Regions from separate parts of the Homo sapiens genome. Here region 1 is linked to region 2. Evidence: fine-mapped expression QTL. Tissue or cell type: cerebral cortex. Region 2 holds a variant in brackets; the other region holds the start of a gene. All regions are shown on one strand. Distances are from middle to middle.

Evidence for each region. PIP is the estimated chance that this variant, and not a neighbour inherited with it, causes the effect.
Region 1: DCHS2 starts here. The variant in region 2 is fine-mapped to the expression of DCHS2 in cerebral cortex (GTEx, PIP 0.98). The same link has a PIP of 0.9 or more in prefrontal cortex.

The regions. Positions count from the first base shown.
Region 1 is chr4:154,488,432-154,496,586 of GRCh38, reverse strand. DCHS2 (dachsous cadherin-related 2) reads left to right here and starts at 4,788. Exons shown (of 20, transcript NM_001358235.2): 1 at 4,788-7,283. The coding sequence starts at 5,232. RefSeq lists enhancers at 4,358-4,407, 5,210-5,389, 5,440-5,579, 5,048-6,003, 6,004-6,960.
Region 2 is chr4:154,324,764-154,332,763 of GRCh38, reverse strand. DCHS2 (dachsous cadherin-related 2) reads left to right here. Exons shown (of 20, transcript NM_001358235.2): 5 at 1-286; 6 at 3,054-3,241; 7 at 4,572-4,671. Among named protein-coding and RNA genes, the nearest start is that of DCHS2, 160 kb to the left of the region's middle. The variant C/T (reference allele first, on the strand shown) is at 3,130.

The DNA.
Region 1 (8,155 bases), 160 kb before region 2:
ACAAGCTCCAAACGCTCTTTGGCTCAAACGTTTTCAGAAAGATGGCATGTGAGTCAAGGGAGTATGGGGGCTTCCTGGTATCATGCACCCTTCTTAACCCTCAGAGGGCCATCCCCATGCGTGAGAAGTTGGGAAGAAACCCTCCATGTCACCCGATTCTCCTTACTGGCCTTTAAGTACCATTTCTAAGTACATTTCTAAGTACGGAGTTGGTTTTTTTTTTTGGTTGTATTTTCAAGTACTGACATGTGACTATCCTCTTGTGCCTCCCCACCACTCCCACTAACATGCTCACAAGTTCCTCCTTCTGTAGTTCTCCCAGGTCTTCCCAAAACTCACTATATCACTGTACTGATTTCATCAAGAATTCAGAAGAAGACAATCTTATTAAAGAAAATCATGAAGACAATAAATGACCAGTGAACACCGTGGACACTGGAGCAAAACTGGGTTCAGGTTCCAATTCTACTACCTGTGGGACTTTGGCCACATGACTTGCAATGCTCCTGAACCTCAGTTTCCTCATCTGTAAGATGGGAATACTAATTATAACTCCTTTCCTAAAAGGTTGACGTGAGGTGATTTGAACCCTGCTTTGAGCACTTAGCAACTACACTATTTAAATTAACTATCACAAAGCTGAGGGCTACCTACAGTCTGAGGGAAAATGTTTCTGAAGAGGGACTTCCTGTGTTACTTAAACTGAATAACACAAAGTGAAGAAATGCCTTGAGCCTTTTTGTCCAAGTTTCTGTTTACAATACTGGGGATTTTTTTTTTTTTTTTTTGAGATGGGCTTTCGCTCTGTCATCCAAGCTGGAGTGCAGTGGCAATGACACAGCTCAATGTCTTGGGTTCAAGCCATCCTGGCATCTCAGCCTCCTGAGTAGCTGGGACTTACAGGTATGCATCAGCGTGCCTGGCTATTTTTAAATTTTTTTTTTTTTTTTTTTTTTTTGTAGAGAGAAGGTCTTGCCACATTGCCTAGGCTGGTTTTTACTTCCCGGGCTCAAGCAATCCTCCTGCCTTGGCCTCTGAAAATGCTGGGATTACAGGCATGAGCCACTGCATCCAGCCAGATAGTGGGAATTTTATATCCTCCCCCTTCACACCTTCTGGGGGGCTAAGAAGTCGGAGTTTGATATTACTGAGAATTCCAAAATAATTCACTCCTAAAACATTTCATCATACAAACACCAGAGGGCAAGAAAAATACAATTTACCACATGCATTCTAGGTACCAATCCACATATATTGCCTCATTTAAGGCCCATGACATCCCTGTAAATTAGATGTATCATCCCCAATTTAGAAAGGAGGAAACTCTAAGGCTTAAGATTTAAATAACTTGCCCCAAATTATAGAGCAGAATAAGGATTTTCCAACTTTAAAGCTAAAACTCTGGCCAGTTACGCCATGATGCTTCGCTTACAAGGATCAGACCTTGACCTATTTCTTGCAGGCTGTTGGCTTCTGTATTATCTAAAATTATTTTTCACATATCTGAGAAATGCTCTTATTTCTCTTACTTTACAAAATTGAATTCTTAATTCTATAATTAAGGATATTCAGGACATTCAATGAAGGGTAATTGTGAAATGGACAGGAGACCTTGAATTGTACATGCTGGAGATATAAAGCTTTAGAACTAATAGGAAAATAGATGTCTGAGGTTCTTGATTTTCCATTTGTTTTCCACTGTTTCTAAACTAAACCACTGTTTACAAAGAATGTGTCAGTGAAAGATGCAGTAAAAGATGCTTCTTTTCCTTTATTTTTAGACTCAAGTAAATATTTGTTAACAATATGGTTGATATGGTTTGGATCTGTGTCCCTGCCCAAATCTCATGTTGAATGGTAATCCCCAGTGTTAGAGGTGGGACCTGGTGGGAGGTGACTGGATCATGAGGCAGTTTCTTATGAATGCTTTAGCACCATTCCCTGATGCTGTCCTCATGAGAGTGAGTGAGTTCTCATGAGATGTGTTTGTTTAAAAGTGTATAGCACCTCCCCATTCATTTTCTTCCTCCTGCCTACTTCCCCTTCACTTTCTGCTATGATTGTAAGTTTCCTGAGGCCTCCCCAGAAACTGATCCCACCATGCTTCCTGTACAGCCTGCAGAACCATGAGCCAATTAAACATTTTTTCTTTATAAATTACCCAGTCTCAGGTTCTTTACAGCAATGCAAGAACAGACTAATACAATGGTTTACAAAGTAAGTTGACGAAGCTGAAAAATAAGTTCAAGAAGTCCTATGAAATAATTAAGATGAGTAAGATTGCAAAGACATAATTCATTACAGTGAAGATTCTCATGGCCAATTCATTCTTGGTTATGGCTTCCAACTTCTACTTTAACAGACAAATGCATTCACTTACCCATAGGTTCAACCAACCGTCTGTCCAACACATACTTAGTAAATAGAGACACACTACATGCTAGGTACTGTTCTAGGTGCTGAGATAAAGCAGAATGAAGGTTTTGAGGTTGTAATAATCTAATAAACAAATGAAAAAAGCAAGTTGATTTCAGATGCTGATAGGTGTTGTGAATGAAATATACTGAAAGGATATAGCATTTATAGTAGAAAGGCTATCTGAAATAGGGTAATTAGGGAAGATCTTTCTTAACAGAGGGCATTGGAGTTGAGACCTGAATGAGAAAGAGCTAGCTCTTTCCAAAGCAGAAAAAAGAACTCCCAGGCATGGAAAGTTCTAACAATTCAAAGGTACAAGATCAAAAAGAAGGCAGATGGCTGAGTCCAGAGTGGTGGTATGAGGCAAGGTCAGAAAGATGGATAGGATCCTGTACTACTAAAAGGAGCTTGATTGAAGGAGTCTGAATTATAATCTAAGTATAATGGAATCATTTCAGGTTCTAAGCAGGAGGTAATATGATTTGAGACAGCTTTAAAAACATTAATCCAGATGCTTGTTCAAGAATTACTTATAGGCTGGTTGCGGTGGCTCAAGCCTGTAATCCCAGCACTTTGGGAGGCCTAGGCAGGAAGACTGGCCCCAGGAGTTCGAGACGAGCCTGGGCAATATAGTGAGACCTCATCTCTACAAAAGTAAAAAAAATAAACAAATAAATTAATAAAATAATATAAAATTTGCCAGGTATAGTGGTGGGCACCCATAGTCCCAGCTACTCTGGAAGCTGAGGTGATGGAATCACTTGAGTCCATGAGGTTGCAGTGCGCCATGATTGCACCACCGCACTCCAGCCTGGGTGACAGAGTGAGATCCTGACTCAGAAAACAAAACAGCAACAACAACAACAATAGCAAAAACAGAAAAGAATTACTTATAAAGGGGCAAGAGTGGGAGGGGAGGGACTAGTTAGGGTGCAAATGCAGAGACTGAAGATAAAAAGACTCTAAAGACTCATAACAAATCTCTTTAATGGTTAAAGAGAGTTCATTGGGGGAAAGAAAGCTGAATTTATTTTAATAATGTCCCCATTTTCGGTAACATATATGCTACAAAGTCAATTATTTTATTGTTATTTGGTCACAGGTAGAGATAACGGTGTGGCTGTGGATTAGCAATTACATACACCTCCGTTGCACATTTAAAAAGGCATTTTGTTGTTGCTGCAAGAAACCACTATGCAGGGCTTTTGGTCCTCCCTAAAGGAGAGAAACGGTATCTAGGAAATTAATTCTTCTCTCAGGCCCAAATGCAAAATTGCAGAAACCACTTGCTAAATATGGTCAGCCATTTTTAAGAGTCCAGAGAGTCTTTTCTCAGGCGTACTTTATTAGAGGCCATTGATCAGTTTCTACCGATTATTATAGTTAATTGAAGGGAAATCTGCGACTATGGCTATTTATTGGCATTTGCGTTCGGCTCAGACAGAAGCTAGTTTTGAAAGTGGTATCCGTAGAGTTATCCCGCTTGCACACTTCCTTGCCTAGGGGTGGTGGGGGAGCGCTGAGGGCTTGCGGGGTGTCAGCCACCAGGGCTTTCTGCTCATCAGTCAGCATCGTCAGACATCCTGGAAGTGTTATGATGGCGCTGAATGTAGAAAAAGGGTTCTCAGGGCGGATATATTGTCGTCATTCCTGGTGGCAGAGGGGAGTGACAAGAGGCTCACACGTCGCTGGGTAGTAGCACGCATAATAAAGTGTGGTTTGCACCATGTGTGCCACAGATTTCTCGGGTTTTCTGGAAGGCTTTTCCAAGTTCCGCCTTCTCCCCTTTAAAGCCATCCTGGCCCCAGCTATGCATCGGCCTTTGACTCCATCTGTCCTTCCGCTGCGGACGGGAGTCCCTCTCGCCAAATGGAGAACACAAGTTTGGCACCCCAAAGTGATGATAACCTCTACCCTCTTGGCTCAGCGCGAGCCAAGAGTCAGGCCTGCAGAGGGACGGTCAAGCGGATGGAGGGGGAGGCCGCGGAGAGGCCGCTCCTCTCACCTCCCCGCACCCATCATCACTTGGCACTTGGCCAAGCCCAGGCAGACGCCCCGCCTGCGCGTCCCCCACCCGCCCCGCGGTGCACGTCTCCCAGTGCTTTTGCATTTGCTCCTCTTCCGCCCTGCTGCAGAGCGCGGCTCGCAGGTTGGAGTTTGCCCTCGTGTGCGCCGCATCACACGGCAGGGAGGGGAAGGCAGGCGGCGGAGGCTGGGTCGGAGCAGGAGTCGCGCGGTCCCTGGCGCCCGGAGACACAGTGGGGAACCACCGCCCCGCCCCCGGAGCAGCGGACAGGGCCGCAGACCTCCCTTCCCCCCTCCCTCTCTCCCTCCTCCCCAGCGCCCTGACTCCCTGCCTCCACGCCCTTACTCCACCCCCTACTCCGGCCAGATCCCCATCCTCTCCTTGTGTGTGCGCGCTTCATATAATCTCCTCCTTTTTGGCAAAAGAAATAATGCACCTGACTTTACCAGGGGGGAACAACCAGCCGAGTAGAACAAGGAACAGATGTAAAGGGAATAAAAGGAGAGAGAAAAAGAGATGAGATTCGTTTAAAGAAATCCAGGGGCAGAAGAGGTGGCTGCCGCGGCAGAGGCAGCTAGAGCTTACTTCCCTGTCTGCGTGAGCTGCAGGCAGAGGACGCTTTCACCAGTTGCAGATGTAACCTCGGGAATTCCTGGGCCGTCGGTTTGTTTGCCAAACAAAGTCTTTTCTTCTCTGGCTCAGACACTGAAGAGGCTCCTGGATTTTTCTGCGATCCTGCCACAAGCTGGCAGTTACCCGAGAGCCTTCCCAAGGAGCTGGAGGAGAAATGAGCCCTTGTGGGCGGAAGATGGGCGAAGGGCGTCAGCAGCGGCGGGCTCCGGTCGGGAAGCTCCTTCTGCTCCCCGGGAGGAGAGATACACCCCATGGGCGGTCAGGCAGCAGCGGCGCCAGGACGCAGCGCTCCCTGCTCTGGCTCTTGGTGCACGTGTGGCTGTGGGCGGCCTCGGGCTCCTCTGCCCAGTTGTTCAACCTCACCCTTTCCGTAGATGAGGGGCTTCCCCCGGACACGCTGGTAGGTGACATCCGCGCCGGGCTGCCGGCCGCGCAGCAGCAGGAGGGGAGCGGCTTCTTTCTGTCGGAGGACTCCGATGACTCCCCGCTGCTGGACGACTTCCACGTGCACCCGGACACCGGCATCATCCGCACTGCGCGGCGCCTGGACCGCGAGCGGCGGGACCACTACAGCTTCGTCGCCGCCACGCTGCTGGGCGCTGTGGTGCAGGTGGAGATTCGCGTCAACGACGTGAATGACCACTCGCCCCGCTTTCCCCTCGACTCCCTGCAACTCGACGTCTCCGAGCTCAGCCCGCCAGGGACCGCCTTCCGCCTGCCAGTTGCCCACGATCCGGACGCCGGACTGTTCAGCACTCAGGGCTACACCCTGGTGCAACCGTCCGACCTGCCCAAGGACCCCGCAGGCCCGTTCTTCCAGTTGCGCTACCGGACTCCGGGGCCACTACCGTCACCGCTTTTGCCAGGCTCCTCGTCACCCCTGGAGCCTCTAGATCTGGTGCTGCTGCGGCGCTTGGACCGAGAGGAGGCGGCGGCGCACCGGCTGCAGATCGAGGCATGGGACGGCGGCCGACCCCGGCGCACCGGCCTCCTGAGCGTGGAGCTGCGCGTGCTGGATGAGAACGACAACCCGCCGGTCTTTGAGCAGGACGAGTACCGCGCCGCGGTGCGCGAGGACGCCCAGCCGGGCGCCGAGGTCTGTCGCGTGCGCGCCACCGACCGCGACCTGGGGCCCAATGGCTTCGTGCGCTACAGCGTCCGCGCCCGGCAAGTGCCTGGGGCGGGTAGCGGCGGCGGGGCACTGGGCGACGCGGCCTACTTCGCGGTGGAGGAGCTGAGCGGCGTGGTGCGAGTGTGGAGACCTCTGGACCGCGAGGCACAGGCCTGGCACCAGTTGGTGGTGGAGGCCCGCGATGGAGGCGCCGAGCCTGAGGTTGCCACGGTGCGCGTGTCCATCGCCGTGCTGGACGTGAATGACAACCGGCCAGCAATTCACGTGCTCTTTCTCACAGAGGGAGGCGTCGCCCGTGTCTCTGAAGGCGCCCGACCGGGCGACTACGTGGCTCGCGTCTCGGTGTCTGACGCGGACGGTGACTGGGAGAAGGAAGATGAGGCCACAGGGGAGCTTGGTGTGGGTCTTGGAGACGGGAGCATCTCTCTGTCCTTGGAAGGCGGAGAGGGAGACTTCGCGTTGCTACCCGGCGGCCCCCCAGGGGTATTTTTCCTTTGCGTGGAGGGGCCCCTGGACAGAGAGAGCCGCGATCTGTATGAGTTACTACTGGTGGCCACGGACGCGGGGTCCCCGCCGCTGAGCACGGAGGAGACGCTGCTACTCCGGGTCGCTGACCTCAATGACCAACCACCTCTCTTCAGCCAACAGCATTACAAGGCCTCAGTGTCCGAGGCCGCGGCCCCTGGCACTGTAGTCATGTGGGTCAGCGCCTCCGATGCCGACGAGGCAGGCAGTGATCACGCCTGGCTGCGCTACACTGTAGTCCAACTCTCGGCTCCCTGCAATCTCGGCTCCCTGCAATCAAAGATGGTCCACACCGCAGAGTGTGGACCATCTTTTGCCATTGATTCCGAAAGCGGTGCGATCAGCACTATCCGGACTCTAGACCGAGAGGTCCAGGAGGCGGTGGAGCTGAAAGTGGTGGCCCAGGACCTCGGAGAGCCCCCACTCTCTGCCACCTGCCTGGTGAGCATCACCGTAGATGATGTGAATGACAATGAGCCCATCTTCTGGAGGCAGGTGTACAATGCCACCATTGCAGAGCATGCCCCGGTTGGACACTGCTTTCTGCAGGTGAGTGCATCAGGCCTGTGGGCCAACCTGAAGGCTTGGGAAGGGATGGAGAGGGTTGTGAGTTGGCCTAGGAAATTGTGATGTGGAGGATAATATTCCGGCTCTCAAATACAAGACTGGCGGTAGTGCCCCCTCTACAGTGAGATGAATGATGCCCTCTAGTCACCTAACTTTTTTTTGCCAGGGTCTTGGCTACATGATCTCTAAGGTCCTTTCAACTTGACTTTTAGATCTTGATTTATCTTATTGAAGCCTGATTTCTTTCCTGCTGGATGTATGCACCTAAATAGGTTCAGGAGGAACTGCCCATTCTAAATCAGACCTCTTCCAACTGACAATGTCTCACATCATATCATATAAATACATGTATACACACACACACACACACACACACACACACAGACACACACACACACATATATATATTTTTGTCAAACAGAGTGTCACTCTGTTGCCCAGGCTGGAGTGCAGTGGCTCAATCTCGGCTCACTGCAACCTCCTTTTCCCAGACTCAAGCAATTCTCCTGCCTGCCACCATACCTGGCTAATTTCTGTATTTTTTTAGTGGAGATGGGGTTTCACCATGTTTGCCAGGCTGGTCTCGAACTCCTGACCTCAGGTGATCTGCCCTCCTCAACTTCCCAAAGTGCTGGGATTACAGGGGTGAGCCACCACGCCCAGCAATGTCTCATATATTTTTTTAACAGCTTTATGAGGCAACCTAGGGAATAAGGTAGTTCTCGTAAGTGAGTTTTTAAAATGACCAAGTGTATATCTTTATACACTGACACTGTTTTGAGTTACCTTTTCCAGAGACTTCTTACATGTTTTCCTACCTTCCTTCGAAGCTTACAAAGGTTGGATGAAGACTG
Region 2 (8,000 bases):
GACTATGAATCCACCCAAACATATAATTTTAGAGTGTTTGCTTGGATCCCCGAGGACGGATTCTTGCAAAATGTGAGCACTACAGTCATTGTTCGTGTCTGGGATGAGAATGACAATTCCCCCACCTTCTTGCATGATGTGTTGTTTTTGAAAGTCGAAGAGAGCCCTGTTCCCCAAGGGGTAATAGGCAAAATTACAGCTATTGACATGGACTCTGGAAAGAATGGACAGCTATTATATTTCCTTTTGTCTGATGGAAAATTCTTCAAGATGAATCCTAATACAGGTAGCACTTCATAGTTTCCACCTATTCCTTTAAAATGAGGGTTCAGTACTATCACACTCGTCTTTAAGTAAAAATAAAAATAAAAAATTAAACAAAATCAGGATTGAGAAAACTCAAGTCGTTAGGTATAGCATTAGTGCATACATGCAATTGAAATAATGGTTTTTAATAAATAAGGTATTCGATTACTCTATTGTGAGGTCTTAAAAATGGATTAAAAATTGAATAGAGTTTCACCCATAATAATTCATACTTTCCCTGCATCACATCCCCATCTTGCCAATATATGGTTCTTTTTCTGAACTAGAGGTATAGTCAGAACTGGATTGAATATATCCTTGTGTAAAGGCTAATTTTTTCAACAACCATCCTTTTCCATTTGTAGACATTTAAAAAACGTCAAAACGTATTTTGTGAAATATAAATATCATCAATGTAAAGCTAGACATCAATTCATTGGTTAAGATTTCAAAATCACTCTAAGAATATATATCCTTTTTCTCATTCTGACAGGGGAACCAGAGGAAAAGGGGGAATAATTACAGTGAAATTTTTAAAGTCTGAATTAAGAAATTAAAGATTAAAAGTCACTATATTTTAAAATTTATGTTGTATAAGTTTACGGGGAGTTTATTTAATCCTTACAATGAAACATATCTATACTGCAAATACATACCCGGGAAAACTGAAACTCAGATAGCTCGAGTAGTACACCCAAAGTCATGGAGCTGGTAAGATGAGAAGAAGCTCCCTTTTTGTGCAGGTCCAGCAGGCACCATCTATGTCATAACCTGGGCAGATGGTGCTGCTGCCTTTAGTGGGACAGACTTTGCATTCAGTTCTGATGAACTTCAAGCCTTTGTTCTCAAGTCTCTGTTCTGTGAATTAGGAGAAGGTGACCTTTCACAGCAGATGGAGGGTTTTCACAGGGCACATGGCTTGCCAAGAAGGTTGCAAGCTGCCTTTCCACTCTCATTCACTCCCTAAACTGAGACTCCTGCTGCAAGGGCACAAACCATACAGCTATATGGGATGACCCTGCTTGCACTTTACTTCCATATGGCTAGTTTTCAAGGTCTTCTATTTCACTTGTTTTTTTCTTTAAAATAAGCAAACTACAGTTGATTCCCCCGTGATCTTCCCTCCCCTACAAGAAAACGAGGTGTCCATTCCTAATTTCATTGTATGGCTTTAAGCAAGTAGCTTAAGCTCAGAGCTGCTTCCTTACCATGAATACAGGAGACAATTCCTGACACGCCCTGTGCCATGCTTTGAGGGGTAAAGAGCTAAAGAATATGAAAGGGCTTGGAACACTACGTGCTTGTAAACTGTTCCTCCTCCCAAGGACAGCATGGCAAGGCAGGGTGGAGGGTGTCCTTCAGAGCCTGGGAGACACACCCCCTTTTCATCCAGTTCTCTGGACAGTCCTACAAGTGACCAGGACTTGAGCTCCTGTGGAACCATATCCTGGTGTCGCCCATCCCCAGCTGCAGCCTGAGCTGCACAGTCTTTTACATCCCCGACCTCCAAGGCTGCTGCTTATCCATCAGATTTGCTTTATGAATAAAAATCTGTTTGCCATTCAGAAGTTAAGGTCTTCGGAGGAGAATTATAGTTTGGAATTTAAAAAAAGCAATTGTGTGTATGATCTATATTAAAACCACCGAGTAAACACTATAAATATAGTTTATATATTAACAGTAAACAGTTATCATAAACACTGCATTTAAGCTCACCAATTCAGCAACTTACCTAAATGAGAATTTTCATTTTTGTTCCCTGTTTCCACTTTTTTTTAATGCAATGCTATTTTATTTGTATTAAGAGGAAAAAAGTTTTTAGCCACAGAAATGTTTGTCGGTAGCTGCTTCATGCTCACATTCTCACAGGTACATTTTTTTTTCATAAATGGTGAGGAAATCAATGCTTGGCAGAGCTCTGACAGGCTATTGGACCGAGTGCTTGTCTTCCCAAGGTCCCTGGCAATAGGAAGAGGCACTTAGATGTTATGCCTGGGTCTGCATGGCTGACACATGAGGAAAGTTACTGAAGGTAGTATAGCTCTAGGCAGAAATATTTGAAATAAAGCTTCTAAAGCATTAAGAGTTTTTATAGGAAGTCACTATCCACTGCTACATGTATATTTTGTGAGATAAAAAACAAATACTTGTGTGCATAAAACAAGAACTATTGCCTAAGGGATATTATTTGATTTCCAGAAAGGTATTTAGCCATTATGTTAAAGTAGTAATAACAGCTTCCACTTGTGTCGTCATGTATAGCTTGCACAATACTTTTAAATGTGTGATTACATTTCTTCCTGACAGCAGTCCCAGGCTCAGAGGAGTCATTCCATGTCTGAGATGGGGAAACTGGGGCCAAAGCCAGAACCTGTGTCAGAGCTCACATGCTTTCCATCATTCTGTATAGCAGCATAAAGAGGGATAAGCAGCAGTTTTAAATCTTCCAAATCATTACTAAGTTCCCACGGAGTTTTATCATTTTTATGAATTCATTGTTTATTAGTTCAAATGATCGATGGATGATAATTTGAAATACAAAGAATAACAAATTTAAAGTGACATTTTCAGGAGCAACTTGAGAAAATTTTTTCAACAGTACCATAGAGCCAAACTACTATGTAGATGGTCTTAGAAGTCGCATATTTGCTCAAAGCTTTGTACTTGGTTTTCCTTCTGGAAATGGTTCTGGCCCTGGTGCGCCTGGTACACAGTGCCTGTGTCTTGTTCTGCTCTGTACTCTGCAGGAGAGTTAATCAATTGGGTGGCACTGGATCGTGAGCACCGGGGGCACCATGAGATGACTGTGCTAGTGACAGACCG[C/T]GGCTCCCCACCACGAAACGCCACCATGGCGGTTTACGTCTCAGTTACTGACATCAATGATAACAGGCCCTTCTTCCCCCAGTGTCTCCCTGGAAAGGAGTTACACGTGAAGGTTTGTGAAGAAACCTTGCAATGAATTTGTAATATCTTAAGTCATTTGTTTTGAGCACCATCTTGTGGTAAAACCTGTGAATTTATCACATCAGTCTTGGTGTGGCAAAGCATACTTTTTCTAGAAGACCTAGATACTGTGCACATGTTATTTTAAAAGAAAATTTTTAAAAAGTAAATGAATATATGTGCTCTTTGGCATTGTACCTCCAGTTGCTTTATAACAATAAGTTTAGTTCAGCCCCTTGTACACAAACTGAATGGTGCTTCAGGTTAATGCTCAGACATGGCTTGTTTTTCCAGTAGTTTACGTGCATCTCTTTGTGCAGAGCTTCTTAACGGCAATTGATACATGTCTCTAAGATAGTTACTTAAGGGTAGGGGAACAACCTGTAGCTCTAAAGTGGGTAGGTGGAAATCCAGAGATAGTAAAAGTTGATCCTTTTGATCACATGCACCAACTGGCAATTATATTTATATTATCTCATCTTTTTCATTTGTCTTTTTGTATGTTGTATAATATACATAATAAATTAGAATATCAGTTCATTCACATAATTAATAAATATGTTTGGACCTACTAATAATTTTTTTAGTGGATGGGTTATAATAATGAAAAGTTTAGAAGCTACTGTTCCAGAACAATTGAATTAGACATTCAAATTGTGCTCAAATATACATATTGAACAACTCAACAAAAGTATTGAGGAACTCATAACTTTAAACTGATCTGAATCCAGCTTTAAAGAAAAATTCTAACAAAGCAAAATATTATTATATCATCATTACACTTTTTAATCATATCATTAAAATGTCCTGTGGCTTAATTGGGCAGTTGGACTCTAAACATGTAGTTGAACTTCACATGTGCATTTCAACATTGCAGGACAGCTCCTGATAATTGGTATGTCCTGCATGAGTTTTGTTTTCTGAATTAAAGGTTCATACTTATTTTAAGCATATTTTAAGCCATAGCAACCACCTTTCAAAAAATGTCCTAAGAGATGATGAATGAGAATATGCTAGAAATCTTAAAATACACCAAAAATCTAAGATTGTTTAGCAAGTTCAATTTCTTTTTCTTTTGGTCAGAATTAGTTCAGATGCCTCAGATAATTCATTCTAATTGAATAAAAGATTTAATATGTAAGGAGGATTCTTTTCATGGACATACACCCATATAACTTTTACATGGTATGCATTTGAATTATATGTGGATTTTAAGATAGTTTAAAATGTTTAGTATAATGTATTCATTCATTTAAAGGTCCACTGATATTTCTTTTTAAACTTTTGCTGACTCATTTGTAAGCTGTTTGTTTTAATGGCAGGTTCTGGAAGGTCAACCAGTAAATATGTTGGTTACAACTGTGTTTGCAAAGGATCCTGATGAAGGAAATAATGCAGAAGTTACATACTCAGTATCTTCAGGTAAAACTTACTGTTCATACGGGATTAAGAACTTTTAGGATTTCTGCTTTCATTTATCAACTATCCCCTTCTGGGAAAAGAAGTTCTATTTTGATTACTTTGAATGCTGTAGTTAGTTTTGAAAAAGCACCAAGTTACAAACAAAATACATTTGCTATTGTCAAGAACTACTTTCAGTTTTTGAAAAGTAATTTAAAGTTTAATAAAAAATCAGAGTAGCTTTTTACGTTCTTAATAGAAACCATTCATCTTTAGTGAGTAATTTGCAATAATGTGAAGTACAAATTTACTTTTATTGATAGGAAAGTGTTAGTTAGGGGATAAGAATTGGTATTAAGTATGACTAAGAGTTCCAAGCATCTATAAATCTTTATGAAGACTGAATACTTGTAAGGTCAGAGTAAATCATGCCTAGAAAATGTCACATGTATACATGCGTGTGTGTATGGGGAAATTTTATTGAAGTGGGCTTACTATTATGTTTTCTGTTGGAACATGCAGGCCCCAGATTTTTTCCAGTTATTTACTTTAATTGGCATTGTGTTTTATATAATTTTAAAAGACATTTGGTGCTTTGTCATGTTTGACACAAACATAGGACATAGGAAAGAAGAGATAACATTGCCCTTTCCCACAGATAGTTTGATTGTCTGCATGGAAAACCCAAGAGATGCTATAGGCAACCCATTGGAATTAATAAAATAGCCAATTTTCTGAGAATAATGTCAACATACGAAACTCACTGGTATTTTTAAAACTTAGCAGTTTCCAAAGATCTCATTCACTATGGTGAATTCACAAAGAAAATGAAAGGGGGTAGGAGCAGATCTACTGTGAAACTAATGAAGCTAAGTTTTGCGGTGTTTTACTTGCATAGCCTCCCCAGGGAGCGGGAAGTGGACAATTTATTTTTCTTAAGGAGTGCCTCTCAAACTGTACAAACTTCAAAACAACACAGATAGGATCTGTCTCTATTAGGGGCATAGAAAAAATTCCAATATAACTTGTATAAGACTTTCATACAGAAAAATATAAAATATTAATGAAGGACATAAAAGAATGAAATGAAAAGCTGTATCATGTTCATGCTTGGGAAGACTCAATATCCTAAAGATTACAATTCTTAACAAAAATATCATTATTAATTCAGTATGATTTCAATCAAATGTTCAATGAGGCTTTGATAGAATTTGACAAGCTGATTCTAAACATCATGTGGAAAAGCAAAAGACAAGGAATAACTAAGACAATGTCCAAATAACAAGTGGGAAGTTGGCCTTACCCAGTCTTAATTTATAAAATTTCATAATTAAAACACTATTGTATTGATTCACTCATTAATAAATGGGCCAGTTAAAAAGAGTAGGGGTCACACTTTACACGTACGGAAACTTGACATATGAGGGGGTAGAAAATAAATGGGGAAAAGATGGACTATCAATACGTGATGCTGATATGATCGGTTACCTACAAGGAAAAATATCTCTACTCTCAGCATATCAAAGATGAGTCTTATTAAATGTAGAAATCTTTAACTCTTACAAAAGAAAATATGAGACTGGTTATATATATGGCATTGAGAATAAAGAAGACGGTTTAAACAAGAAGAAATGCAGAAGCTCACAAAGAAATAGATAAATAAAACTAAATGAAAATTGAAAACACTACAAAATATGCCATTGTTTACAATGTGACTATTCAAGTCACAAGTTGGGAAAAGATAATTATAGTCCAGTAACCAATACAAAATTAGTATTCAGAATTTATTAAGAACTCCTGCAAACCAGTAAGAAAAACCAGTAAATAAATAATAAAATTGGACAAAGAATGTTAACAGACAACTCAAAGAAAAGAAGCCTGAATAATTAAAAAGGTTTTTAAAGCATGCCCAGACTCCTTGTTGTGACGACTTCGAAGAACAATGAAGCAATATCTGATAAGACTGGAGATGTGCTTATGCTATACCCTTGCAGTTCTACTTCTGTTACCCTAGAGGAACTCTATATGTGCAGAGTGAGACTGTAACAGGATATTCATTGAAGCATTGTTTCAGTTGTCTGCATAATATGGTATATTCACGGAATACTATACAGCAATGAAAATGAATACAATAGAATTTCATACATGGCAGTGTGGATAAATATTGAATCCAAAGTTAAGCAAGGAAGGCAAGGATTTTACAGAAGATAAAAAGAATTTGACGCAAACAGCAGCTTTGAGTTCATTGCATTGCTTTTCCTTGGAAAAGTTACATATGCAGTTCTTCTCAATACCTCCATGGTCAGGGAGCCAAATTCTTCTCTGATGTTTCTATGCCCATATAAACCATCCGAACTTATTTACCTATAAATGTCTTCCCAAGTTCTCAGGACACTTGAATGGTGGATTATACAGAGGTAGTGAGCCTGCAGCAGATCCACATTTGGAGACAGCCCTTCCTCTGTGTTCCTGCTGTCCCCTCCTTCAGAGACTCTTTCCCCATTCTCCCCCTCTTTTTTTGTCTTCCCTTTTGTTACTTCTCAAATTTCTCTTTTTGTTGTCTTAGCTTATTTTAATCTGGTCCTTGGGTGGGAGAAAAACTGGCTTTGCAGGTATGCATTCAAGAATCTTTCTCTGGCTATGAGGTCAGTTAGGTCAATAAGATCTTTATATCTTTTTTTCCTGTCTTATTTTGGGGTGGAGAAGACAACATAGTGTACCTGTGAAGGACAATGATTGTGAAGAGGGAAAATACACACACACACACACACACACACACACACACACACACACACACGGCTATAATCCTGCTATAATACCACTATTTAAAAGCAAGCAAAGCCATGGCATATGTTATTTATGGATGTATGGACTTCAAAGATAAACCTCAACTTCAGTTATAAAAGTGACTTTCTACGGGGAAAAAGGAGGGGAATGAGATTTGGAGCTATATACAGATCCACTCCTTTATTCATACTCTGCCATTTCTTGGAAAAAATTGAAAAAATATTGAAAATTAATCAGTCTAAGAAGTGATACTTTGGTGTTCATCGAAATATTCTTTTTTTATAAATTAGCTTTTAAATGATAATTGAGGCATGTCAATACAAAAATATGGAGATATATATTACATTATTCCCATCTTTATTTTTTATCTGATAGTAAAATAGAAGCAACTACAAAATATATGGTAAAATAATGAGATGAAAATTGGTATAAGGGGAATAAAGGTATGTATCATATTCATGAATGCATTCTATAGTATTTCTGTGAGAACAAAATCAATGGATTAAAGCATAGAAATCACAACTAATAAATGTTACATAATTGCCTGCTCCATGCTATGAGTT